3 linked regions of the Homo sapiens genome follow. The gene in region 1 interacts genetically with each later gene. Each region holds a gene or a part of one and is shown on either strand. Other genes may lie near its edges.

What was found. Genes that interact genetically often act in the same process or in processes that back each other up.
Region 2: changes in EHMT2 (region 1) and SLC16A8 together harm fitness less than expected from each alone (positive genetic interaction), as found in Homo sapiens cells (one large-scale study listed by BioGRID).
Region 3: changes in EHMT2 (region 1) and GPX1 together harm fitness more than expected from each alone (negative genetic interaction), as found in Homo sapiens cells (one large-scale study listed by BioGRID).

Annotation. Positions count from the first base shown.
Region 1 is NC_000006.12:31,887,699-31,891,198, forward strand, and holds part of EHMT2 (histone-lysine N-methyltransferase EHMT2), read right to left. Parts: intron 1,905-3,500; coding exon 1,770-1,904; intron 1,645-1,769; coding exon 1,530-1,644; intron 1,373-1,529; coding exon 1,271-1,372; intron 1,050-1,270; coding exon 901-1,049; intron 809-900; coding exon 665-808; intron 579-664; coding exon 343-578; intron 264-342; coding exon 81-263; intron 1-80. UniProt on the Homo sapiens protein: Histone methyltransferase that specifically mono- and dimethylates 'Lys-9' of histone H3 (H3K9me1 and H3K9me2, respectively) in euchromatin.
Region 2 is NC_000022.11:38,081,385-38,085,477, forward strand, and holds the start of SLC16A8 (monocarboxylate transporter 3), read right to left. Parts: upstream 2,801-4,093; 5' UTR 2,604-2,800; intron 1,978-2,603; 5' UTR 1,658-1,977; intron 1,654-1,657; exon of another isoform or gene 1,498-1,653; 5' UTR 1,490-1,497; coding exon 1,276-1,489; intron 649-1,275; coding exon 505-648; intron 296-504; coding exon 1-295. Other genes in the region: BAIAP2L2 (BAR/IMD domain-containing adapter protein 2-like 2), read right to left, coding at 3,916-3,991.
Region 3 is NC_000003.12:49,356,676-49,359,834, forward strand, and holds GPX1 (glutathione peroxidase 1), read right to left. Parts: upstream 1,679-3,159; 5' UTR 1,604-1,678; coding exon 1,490-1,603; coding exon of another isoform or gene 1,307-1,489; exon of another isoform or gene 1,214-1,306; coding exon of another isoform or gene 1,151-1,213; exon of another isoform or gene 1,092-1,150; coding exon of another isoform or gene 1,073-1,091; coding exon 713-1,072; 3' UTR 501-712; downstream 1-500.

The DNA.
Region 1 (3,500 bases):
CCTCAGATTCCAGCATCAGCCTCGACACCACTCCTCTGGCCTCAGCCCCAGTTGCTGTGCCTGAGCAACTCCCCACTCACCTCTCTGACTCCTGGATGACCAGGGCCTTTTCCAGGGCCTCCCGGCCTGGCCCCAGTGGCAGCCCCACGGCTGAAAGGCAGCCCCCATTGGGCAGGGTCAGGGAGGGCCCTGAGCTGTCAATGGTGTCAGCCAGGGGATCGCAGGGCGGGCGCCGGGGTTCCCCATGCCCTCGCATCCGGGCACTGTGGAAGAAGGAGCTCATGTCCAGGAGCAATAGGGGTGGGGGAGGGAACAGACAGTACAGAAGGGGGAGGCCAGTACCTGGGCTGAGAAGTGTCTGCTCTCCCGGGGACATCCTGGGACAGGGGTGGGGGTGCAGGAGCTGCAGTGCCGGCCGGTGGGGTCACCCCGTCACCCCGGGGGATGGTCACCTCTTGAGCTTCAGAAGCATCCTCCCCACAGTGGGGACAGAAGACCATCCCATTCAGCTGAGACACACAGGCCTTGTGGAAGCGGTGGGCCACACGGAAGTCAGGGTGGCACTCCAGGAAGGTGCCCTGGGAGCAGGGAAACGACATGGTCAGGTTACTGGGGCCCCCTCTGCCACAGGGCATGCTACCTGTCTGCCCCACTGGTCACTCACCGCCGTGCAGAAGTAGCCGCAGCCCGGGCAGCAGTGGTGTTTGACCATGCGGGCGCGGTGGGTCTCACAGAGCACCATCAGGGCCACACGGCTGGATGGCCTCATGGTCTCCCGCTTGAGGATGGCGGCATTGCAGCCTGACAGCTGTGCGCAGTGAGGATGGGTGAGAAGAGAGCGTGAGGCTGGGGCCGGGGACTGGACGCCCTGGCACCTCTCCCACCAGCCCACGGCCCCACCTCTCCGTCCACACTCTCAGTGGCCATGCACTTGTGCCCCGCCCTCTCGCTGATGCGGTCAATCTTGGGTGCCTCCATGCGGCAGCTGCACAGGGGCAACTCCTCAAACCCTCGCTCTGTCTCCAGCGAAGATGTGTCATTGGACACCCCTTGGATGGAGGAAAAGAGGAGCTGAGGGAGGCTCTGCACCTCACCTACTGGGACCCCTGGCGGGTCCTCTCACTCCCTCCCTACCCCACCCCGCCATGCCCCAGAACCCCTAAAGCCTGGCCATGGACACCCCGGCTCTGGCGTGGTTCCCCTCCTTCCCTTTCCCTCCTGCCCTGAGGTCGCCCCCTAGTGGCTCCCTGTCCCGGCAATTGGCAATTACCAGCGTGGTTGGGGGAGAGGGTCCCCTCGCTGGGCAGCTCCAGGGACCCCAGAGGGACCTCCATGTACTCACTGGGGCCTGAGGAGCCCACACCATTCACTCCTGACACAGAGACAGAGAGAGTGAGAGTGCGAGCTCACAGGTGCCTGGACGCGTGGGTACATGCAGGTGGACATGCGAGAGCGTGTGTGTGCGTGCACACACTCTGGGGGGCCGGGCGGGGGCTGGAGGGCACCCAAAAGCAGCAGAGCCTCCTCACCTCGTGGCTCCTTGGCCCGCGGAGGCTCCCGCTTGCGCCGTTTCCGAGACGGCTTCACCCATGGGCTGTCTTTTCGCCATTTCTTCTTGGCCTTGCGCCGGCCACTGGAACCACTCTGGGAAGGGGGAGGAGGAGGAGTTAGGAACCCTCACCCCCAGGGGCCCCCCCAACACCTTCAGGACCAGACCTCCAGCCCCATAGTCTCCCACTCCTCTGGAGATATCAGCCTCCGTCTCTTACCCTATCTGACTGATTCCCTGACTCCTCATCTTCCTCTTCTTCTTCCTCTTCCTCCTCCTCTTCCTCTTCTTCTTCTTCCTCCTCTTCCTCCTCCTCCTCTTCACTTAGTTGTTCAGTTAGAGCTTCAACTTCAGACTGGGAGAGAGGCAGAACAGACATATCCAACCCCCAGGACTCAGACAATGAGGTGAGTAAAGAAAACCACCACCACCATTGCCCCCCGCCACTACCCACGGATGGCTGCTGGGGATAAGTGTGGGTAGCAGAGGAGACAAAGGGCCACATAAAGAGAGGGTGCATGGAATATTACACAGCAGTGAAAAAGTTACAGACAGCAATGTGCACAGATCTTGGTAATGTGATATTAAGTTAAAAAACAAAAAGCAAGTACCAGAAGATAAACATACTTTGATACCCCTTTTATGATGTTCATAAACAGGCAAGACCACCAATGGTTGCTAAAAACACTAGACACAAAGCTCATGAGAAACTTTATATGAAAGGTTCAGGCTGACATCACCTGAACCCACTGGTCAATCTTATCACTAACAAGAAAAATGACCAGATTAGATGTTCCATGCATCCTGATGTGATGTGGCCAGAAGCACTTGCACCCACTGTCAAGTCTTCTTGGCACCTGAAGCTGATTCCGCCTCTAGATCTATCAGTTTACAAGAAATATGGGCAGAGAGGATGTGTCAATCTCCACCCAATCAGCCAACTCCTAAATGTGAAAAATTCTGTAGGACAACTGAGCTGGTTTCTTTGACAAATAAATGGCAAAAAAAAAAAATCTTTCTTATTTATTTATTGAGTTTTGCTCTTGTTGCCCAGGCTGCATTGCAATGGTGTGATCTCAGCTCACTGCAACCTCCACCTCCTGGATTCAAGCAATTCTCTTGCCTCAGCCTCCTGAGTAGCTGGGATTATAGGCACCCGCCACCACACCCAGCTAATTTTCGTATTTTTATTAGAGATGTGTTTTCACCATGTTGGCTAGGCTGGTCTCAAACTCCTGACCTCAGGTGATCCACCTGCCTCCCAAAGTGCTGGGATTACAGGCGTGAGCCACCACGCCTGGGCCAAAAAATTTTTTTTTAGAAGATGAGGAAATCAGGCCAGGTGTGGTGGCTCACGCCTGTAATCCCAGCGCTTTGGGAGGCCGAGGTGGGCAGATCACGAGATCAGGAGTTTGAGACCAGCCTGGCCAACATAGTGAAACCCTGCCTCTACTAAAAATACAAAAAATTAGCTGGGCATGGTGGTGGGTGCCTGTAATCCCAGCTACTTGGGAGACTGAGGCAGGAGAATTGCTTGAACTCAGGAGGTGGAGCTTGCAGTGAGCCAAGATCACGCCACTGCACTCCAGCCTGGGTGACAGTGTGAGACTCCATCTCAAAAAACAAAAACAAACAAACAAACAAACACAAAGAAGATGGGGAAACCTAAATACTGAGAGAGACCTAAGACAAAAAAAAATTTTTTTTTTTTTGAGACGGAGTTTCGCTCTTGTTGCCGAGGCTGGAGTGCAATGGTACGATCTTGGCTCACTGCAACCTCCACCTCCCAGGTTCAAGCGATTCTCCTGCCTCAGCCTCCCGAGTAGCTGGAATTACAGGCACGTACCACTACGTCCAGCTAATTTTGTATTTTTTTCAGTAGAGACGGGGTTTCTCCATGTTGATCAGGCTGGTCTCGAACTCCCAACCTCACGTGATCTGCCCGCCTTGG
Region 2 (4,093 bases), on another chromosome or scaffold:
CCCGGAGCGTCCCCGGCGCGGTCGCCGGCGCTGTCCCTGCGCGGTCGCGGGCCCGGCCCGGGCGGCGGCCTCATGACAGCCCCGCAGGCGCAGCAGTGCAGCAGGAGCCCGCCGAGCAGCAGGAAGCCGCCGCGCCAGCCGAAGCGCTCCAGCAGCTGCTGGCCGAGCGGCGACAGCGCGGACAGGAACACGGGGCTGCCCGCCGCCGCCAGCCCGTTGGCCAGAGGCCGCCGCCGCTCGAAGTACAGCCCCAGCATGATGAGCGACGGCTGGAAGTTGAGGGCCAGGCCCAGGCCTGCGGGCGAGGCGGTGCTGTGCCGGGGTCCCCGGAGAGCCCCTCCCTGGCCCCCACAGGAGGGAGGGGCCAGGCCCGGGAACCCAGCAGATCCGGGAACCCAGCCGAGGGACTTCGAAGACTGTCCCTCATAGGGAAACCGAGGACAGATCTTGCAGCAAGAACCCCCGACCCCCAACCCAGCGGAGAGGAGACCAGGGGGCCCTCACCTGTGAGCACCCCAGCGGTCAGGTAGAGCTCCAGGAGGCGCGTGGCAAAGGAAGCTAGGATCATGCCCGCGGAAGCCAGCAGCCCACCCGCCAGCATCACCGGGCGACAGCCAAAGCGGGTCACGAGGATGCTGGACACGGGGCCTGTGGGCAGGGCAGGGTCACCACCCGGGTCCCGGGATGGCTTGAGTCCTCTAAGGAATAAGGTCACCTCCGGCTCAGGGACACAGAGAGGAGGGCAGTGTCTGGCCAAGGTCACACAGCTTGGAGGGGACAGGCCAAAGAGACAGCATCCTGCGAGGGCAAGGCCCAGAGCACCCCATCCTGCGAACCCAAACCCCAAGCGGAGCGGGGGCTTCCGCACCCCTTTAACCTTCACAGCCTCCAAGTCCCGCCCTGGCACAGACTGGGATTCCTCCGCAGCCCCGCCTCCCAGGATGGGAACTCCAGCAAGCCCCCACCTACAGGTCAGGGCTGCGGGGAGGGGGAGTGCTTCTGTGGCTCTCAGCTTTCCTGCCTCTACAATGGGCGGGTGTGGTCTTAGAAGGGGCCCTCTGAGCTCGCAGGGCAGCCCCCTGGGCCGGCCCCGCCTCTGGCCGCTGTCTCCCTCCCGCCCTCTCTTCCCCTCTTTCTGGTGCCAGGGTTCCCACAGGCAGGAAGGGACTTCGGGGGCCACCCCGAGGGTCAGGGGGATGCTCAGGGGCTCGGGTGTCTCCTGGTTCCGGATCCCAGGGGTCCCGGGGAGGCGGAGGGCCGGGCGGGGACACTGACCCGTGCCGTAGAGCATGGCTAGCATGATGGAGGACACCCAGGCCGTGTCGCTGTAGCCGGCGTCGAAGTCGCGCATGAGCGCGCGGAAGAAGACGCTCACGGCTTTGGGGAAGCCGTAGGCGAAGCCGGTGACCACAAAGCAGGCGCCCAGCACCACCCAGCCCCAGCCGCCGTCTGGGGGGCCCTCGCCCCGCCGGGGGCCGCCAGCGCCCATCGCTGCCTCTGTTGGGAGGGGGCGGGGACAAGAGGGAGGGGCTGGGCCAGCAGCCTAGAGAAGGAGGGGGATGGAGACGAAGCATGGGGAAACTGAGGCACAGGGCTACCCACGTGAGGGTGGCTCAGGTCTGGGAACCAAAAGGGGAAACGGAGGTAGGACTCTCACCCCAAGTCTCCTTCTCCTGCAAAGGGCGCTGAAGGACGAGGGGAGGACGACGGGTCCCACCTGACTCTGCACCTCTGCAGGCTCCCTCTGAAGGACAACTGCTGGCCCCTCAGGGCCTCAGGTGGAAGGCGTCGGGAAGTGGAGCAGGTATGTGCCTGGAGGTGGGCGTCCAGCACCAAAGTCGCCCCGTACGCGTGAGGGTCTCGGGACAACAGAACAAACAGCAGAGGGGCAGATGCCGGCTGCAAAGGGCCGCTGTGCGTGATTTTCCTCTTTAGCCTTCCGCCATGTTCCTAATGTTTCTCAGTGATCACAAATGACTATTGTCATTAGAACATTAAGGGGACAAAAGCCACTTTCAACAGATATCAGCCAGGGGAGCTGAGTTCCCATGCATCTCAGCTCAGCCATGGATTCCCTCCCTGACTTGGGCCGGTCGCCTCCCCTCTCCCAACCTCCCTTTCCTCCGATGTAAGATGGGTGATTGATCACCCCGAGGCCAGCTGGGAATCTTGCGGGAGAGGAGTCAGGTCTCTGGCTTCTGCCAGACAGGTAGGAACCTTAGCAGCACTGAGAGAGTGGCCTTCTGCCCTCCAAACCTCAAACCCTCTATATGAAAAGAATGGCTCCAAAGCCTGTCTCATTCCTGGGGCTCCACCCGGGGCCCTCACAGCAGTTACAAGCGCCCCCATAACAGATGAGGAGGGTGTACTCAGAGACAGGTGCACCAGGAGCCGGGGGCTGGGGATAGCCTCCTGCCCTCCTGCCTGGAGTGTCCCTCCTGGCACTGGGCAGTGCCACCACCCCCAGGGTATCCGGGACTCTGCCCCTCCTCCACTAGGACCAGGTTGTGGCTTTTCCTGCCTGTTGTCCTCTTGTCACAGGGGCAGCCACTTGAAGGTGGAGACAGGAGGGTGATCCCAGGCAGCCCTCACATCACACTCACCTGAGCCTGCCTCGTGGGTTTGGGGGTCCAGCCTCACATCTCCTGAGGCCTGCAGGGAGGGGCCGCCGCCGCAGCTCCCGGTGAAGCTTACCCGGATGGGGGCTGCCAGACACCCCAGCTTCCCACCAGCCTGGGCTGAGCCTCTGGCCGACTCCCGCCTGACGCTCCCTGCCCCAGGCCTGGAGCTTAGAGTGTGTGCCCCCACCACACCTCACCCCTGCTAAGAGGCTTTTGTCCAGGAGGGGAGAAGAGACTGGGAGCCCCAGGCCAGGCTGGGCCTCGGCGGTGGGCTCCCTGTCCCAAGCCAGTCCAGGAGGGAGGAAGAGAATCCCTGTGCCTCCTGGAGCCTGGGGTGGTAGACACAGAGACCTTGCCCAGGGGGTCCTAGTCTGGTGCTGGGGGCACAGCCCTGCCCTGAAGAGACCCCAACGGTTCTAATCACCTCAGTGCCTCATCTGCCCCCGCCCCAACCCCCCGCCCCAGGCCACATTCCAGGAGGGGCTGGCAGCTTTCTCTAGAATGAAGCTAATCCACGCCTGTGCCTGGGAATGTGGGGGGGGGAGGGGCCAAAACAAAGGGTGCTGTGTCCAGGCCGCCTGAGGGCAGCTTGCTGGTGGTCCCAGCCCTTGGCCACTGCCACCTCTCCCCTGACCCGAGCAGCCGCTACTTCCTAGGAAACCCACAGGTCGAAATGAGAGCAGGTGGAGATGGGGGCTGCAGCGCGAGGGCTTTGGGGCAGCCCTAAAGAGTTCTCCAAACAAACAAACAAGGGGCTGGGAGTGAGATGGCTTCCCGGGGAACAGCCAGGACCTCAGTACCCCCTAGACCCCATTCTCCAATGGGGGAGTCTCTATCCCTCACCCCCTGCCCTGTCCCCCAAATAAGACACCACCAGTCCTGCTGCCGCATCACTTTGCGTCCACTTCCTTTATTTCTCATCATTTACAAAAGATGTACAGAGAGGGCATGTGTTGGGCACGGAGCAGGTACAAGGGGCTCCTCCCCACGGGGGCAGAAAAGGGGGAAAGAGGTTAGGGGGCAAGAGGTGGGCCCCCCAGGGAGAGTCCTGGAGCCCCTGGAGGGGGAGAAATTGTCCTGTCCCCCCATTCCGCCTGCTTTACTTTGAAGGTCTCGGACCCCAAGCCAGTGCTTTGGAGCTGCTCAGGCTGCCGGGGTGGTCTGGGGAGGGCAGCCACCCCCCGTCTCAGGGACCCGCTTCTTGGATCTGCTGCTGTTGCTGCTGTCGCTGCCATTGCCAGCTCTGAACAGCCCCTGGGCAGGTGCACTGTGGGGTACGACCTCGGACCCCGCCTCAGCGGATGAGGGGTGCTGAGCGGTCATTGGTGATGGTGGGACGAAGCTTGACAGTGGCAAAAGGATTTGTGCCCCTGTAGGAGGAGAGAGAGAATGGGGTGAGAAGGGCAGATGATCCCCACCTGGCCATGGCTCAGGAAGGCAGCTGGGCAACTGAGCTGGGTCCTGCCTCCTGC
Region 3 (3,159 bases), on another chromosome or scaffold:
TGCAGGCCAGGAGCCAGACTTCCCACAAAGGAAAGAGTGGATCCTACACGCTGCAGACAAAAGGACAGAAAGTTCAGACTTGGCTAGGATAAGGGAAGGAGGATTAAGTTCCCACCACTATGACAATGAGGTTAGAAAAAGTATCGCCAGGCCGGGTGCGGTGGCTCATACCTGTAATCCCAGCACTTTGGGAGGCCGAGGCGGGTGGATCACGAGGTCAGGAGATCGATACCATCCTGGCTAACACGGTGAAACCCTGTCTCTACTAAAAATACAAAAAATTAGCCGGGCGTGGTGGCAGGCACCTGTAGTCCCAGCTACTCAGGAGGTTGAGGCAGGAGAATGGCGTGAACCCGGGAGGCGGAGCTTGCAGTGAGCCTAGATTGCGCCACTGCACTCCAGCCTGGGCAATAGAGCAAAAAACTCCGTCTCAAAAAAAAAAAAAAAAAAAGAAAAGAAAAAGAATTCCCAAATGACAATGACACAGGACATACACACAGTTCTGCTGACACCCGGCACTTTATTAGTGGGGAAACTCGCCTTGGTCTGGCAGAGACTGGGATCAACAGGACCAGCACCCATCTCGAGGTGGTATTTTCTGTAAGATCAGGTGTTCCTCCCTCGTAGGTTTAGAGGAAACACCCTCATAGATGAAAACCCCCCCGAGACAGCAGCACTGCAACTGCCAAGCAGCCGGGGTAGGAGGGGCGCCCTAGGCACAGCTGGGCCCTTGAGACAGCAGGGCTTCGATGTCAGGCTCGATGTCAATGGTCTGGAAGCGGCGGCTGTACCTGCGTAGGGGCACACCGTCAGGGCCCACCAGGAACTTCTCAAAGTTCCAGGCAACATCGTTGCGACACACCGGAGACCAGGTGATGAGCTTGGGGTCGGTCATAAGCGCGGTGGCGTCGTCGCTGGGAGCTGGCAGGGCCTCCCGCAGGAAGGCGAAGAGAGGGTGCGCCCCCGCACCGTTCACCTCGCACTTCTCGAAGAGCATGAAGTTGGGCTCGAACCCACCACCAGGCCGGACGTACTTGAGGGAATTCAGAATCTCTTCGTTCTTGGCGTTCTCCTACAGGAGAGAAGGGCAGCTAGAACCCGGGGTCAAGAGGAGGAGAGAAACGTTCTAACCACAAACAAGGGAGATTTTCTATGAGTCACCGGGATTTTGCCCTCCATGCGCAATCCCAAGGGCGGAGAGGAATTTCAGCAGCTACGAGCAACAGAAAGGAAACGAGAGAGTAGCCAGACTCTCCGCGCATGGAGCCGACGGCACCCACCAGCACACCGCCGGCGCCCCCAGCCACTACTGCACGTCCGCCCCCGCCCCGCCCCGCTCCGCCCGGCGCACCTGATGCCCAAACTGGTTGCACGGGAAGCCGAGCACCACCAGGCCCCGGGGTCCGAGGCGCCGCTGCAGCTCGTTCATCTGGGTGTAGTCCCGGACCGTGGTGCCTCAGAGGGACGCCACATTCTCGATAAGTAGTACCTTGCCCCGCAGGGAGCCCAGGCTCACAGGCTCCCCGCCGGCCAGCGGGCGCGCCGAGAAGGCATACACCGACTGGGCCGCCGCCGCCGCCGCCGCTAGCCGAGCAGCACACATGGCGCAATTGTCCAAGAAGCCAGCGGAGCGCCCCGAACAAGCACTGTAAGGGGAGGCCAGCAGGCGCCTCCTTTTAACTGGCCGGCGGCGGGTCACGTGGCACAGGCAGTTTTCCGGGCCTGAGGGTCCCGCCTCATCCGGCCCCCGCCCTACCCGGAGGGCTCGGCCCCTCCTCAGCCAGGAAAAGGCTGGAGAGTGCGCCCGAGCGGGACGCGTGCTCCTCCTAAGCCGGAAGGAGCAGCAGGCATGTCTGGTCTGGCCCAGGCAACCAGGCGGCAGCGGTCCAGGTTACCCTTCCAAGGGCTGGGGCCCTCGAGGGCTCCGTTTTTTCTCAGAGGTTCCTGAGTTAGGATGTGGGGTTTGGCATAGGAGGCTGGTGGGCGACGGCAGCAGCTGCAGGAGCTGCCCGTGCACAAACAGCCCTCCTCTCCTGTGCCATGTTACCGGCAGTGCAGGGGACAGCCAGAGGGATCTAGGCTTCCGGTCTCCCTCCTCCCTGTCTCCAAAGCGGCACCGCCCTCGTGCGGGTTTTCTAACCGGGCAGAGTCCTGGAAGCTCTGCCCCAGCCTCCTTAAGTGGAGCCCAGTAGCTCGCCGAGGCCAAGGAAACGCTGCCGGAGTCCTCCCTCCCTGGCCTCCTCAGGCTGCATTCACCCTACCCCCAAATCTGAACCAGAATGCGGTACAGGGTAATCATTTCCATGTTGTTGGGAGGGACCAGATTAGCTGCTGGGTGGGTGGGAGGTGGGGCACAAGCTAGTCCTTTGCACTCAACAAACCTCTCCAGGGTGAGCTAGGCCAGGAAGTCCTTGCATCCTCCTACCCCCAGCCCTGGAGAGAGCAACACAAACAACAGGATACAGGAAGTTTAGAAAACTGCCTTTATTCTATTAGTAGTTGGAAAAATTAACTGGTACAGAAAAAAAGTTTAGTCAGCTGGAGAGAAGAGAGACTGAGTGCCACCCATGAGAACTGGTGGCTCCTCTGGGAGGGAACCTGGATACAGTGAGGAGAAAAGAGCACTGTGAATTAGAGCCAGATGCTTAAGTCCAGGTGAGACAGGTTATGCCATCTTCCAAAGTGTCTAATTGCCTCAGGCGTGAAACCAATTCCTATTTACTTAGCCCAGCTCCATGGGGTACTGAGATACATGGGGCCGAAAAGGGGTAATATGGCCATCTTTTATCAGAAAAAGTGACAAAACGGGAATTTAAAAAATGAATTTTCCATCTGACTTTATTTCCAAATACACTTTCTTTTTTAAAAAACCAATACACTTTCTTTGAGGATGACAGTATTAGGAAATCCAATTATACAAAAAATACTACATCTAGTCTGGGGTAGATATATTTATTTTTGGTAACATACATTAAGTGGCACTAATTACACAGTAACTATAAGGTAACTAACATGAAACCACAGAACTGTAACTCTGCCACAGCTGCATGAACTTGGGCTTTTCTGGTTGAGCCCATTTTCAAAAAACTGCCCACCCCAGAGCTATGCCAACAAAATCTGTTACGGAGTAAAGCCCTGAAGTGGTGACTCACCAGAGTA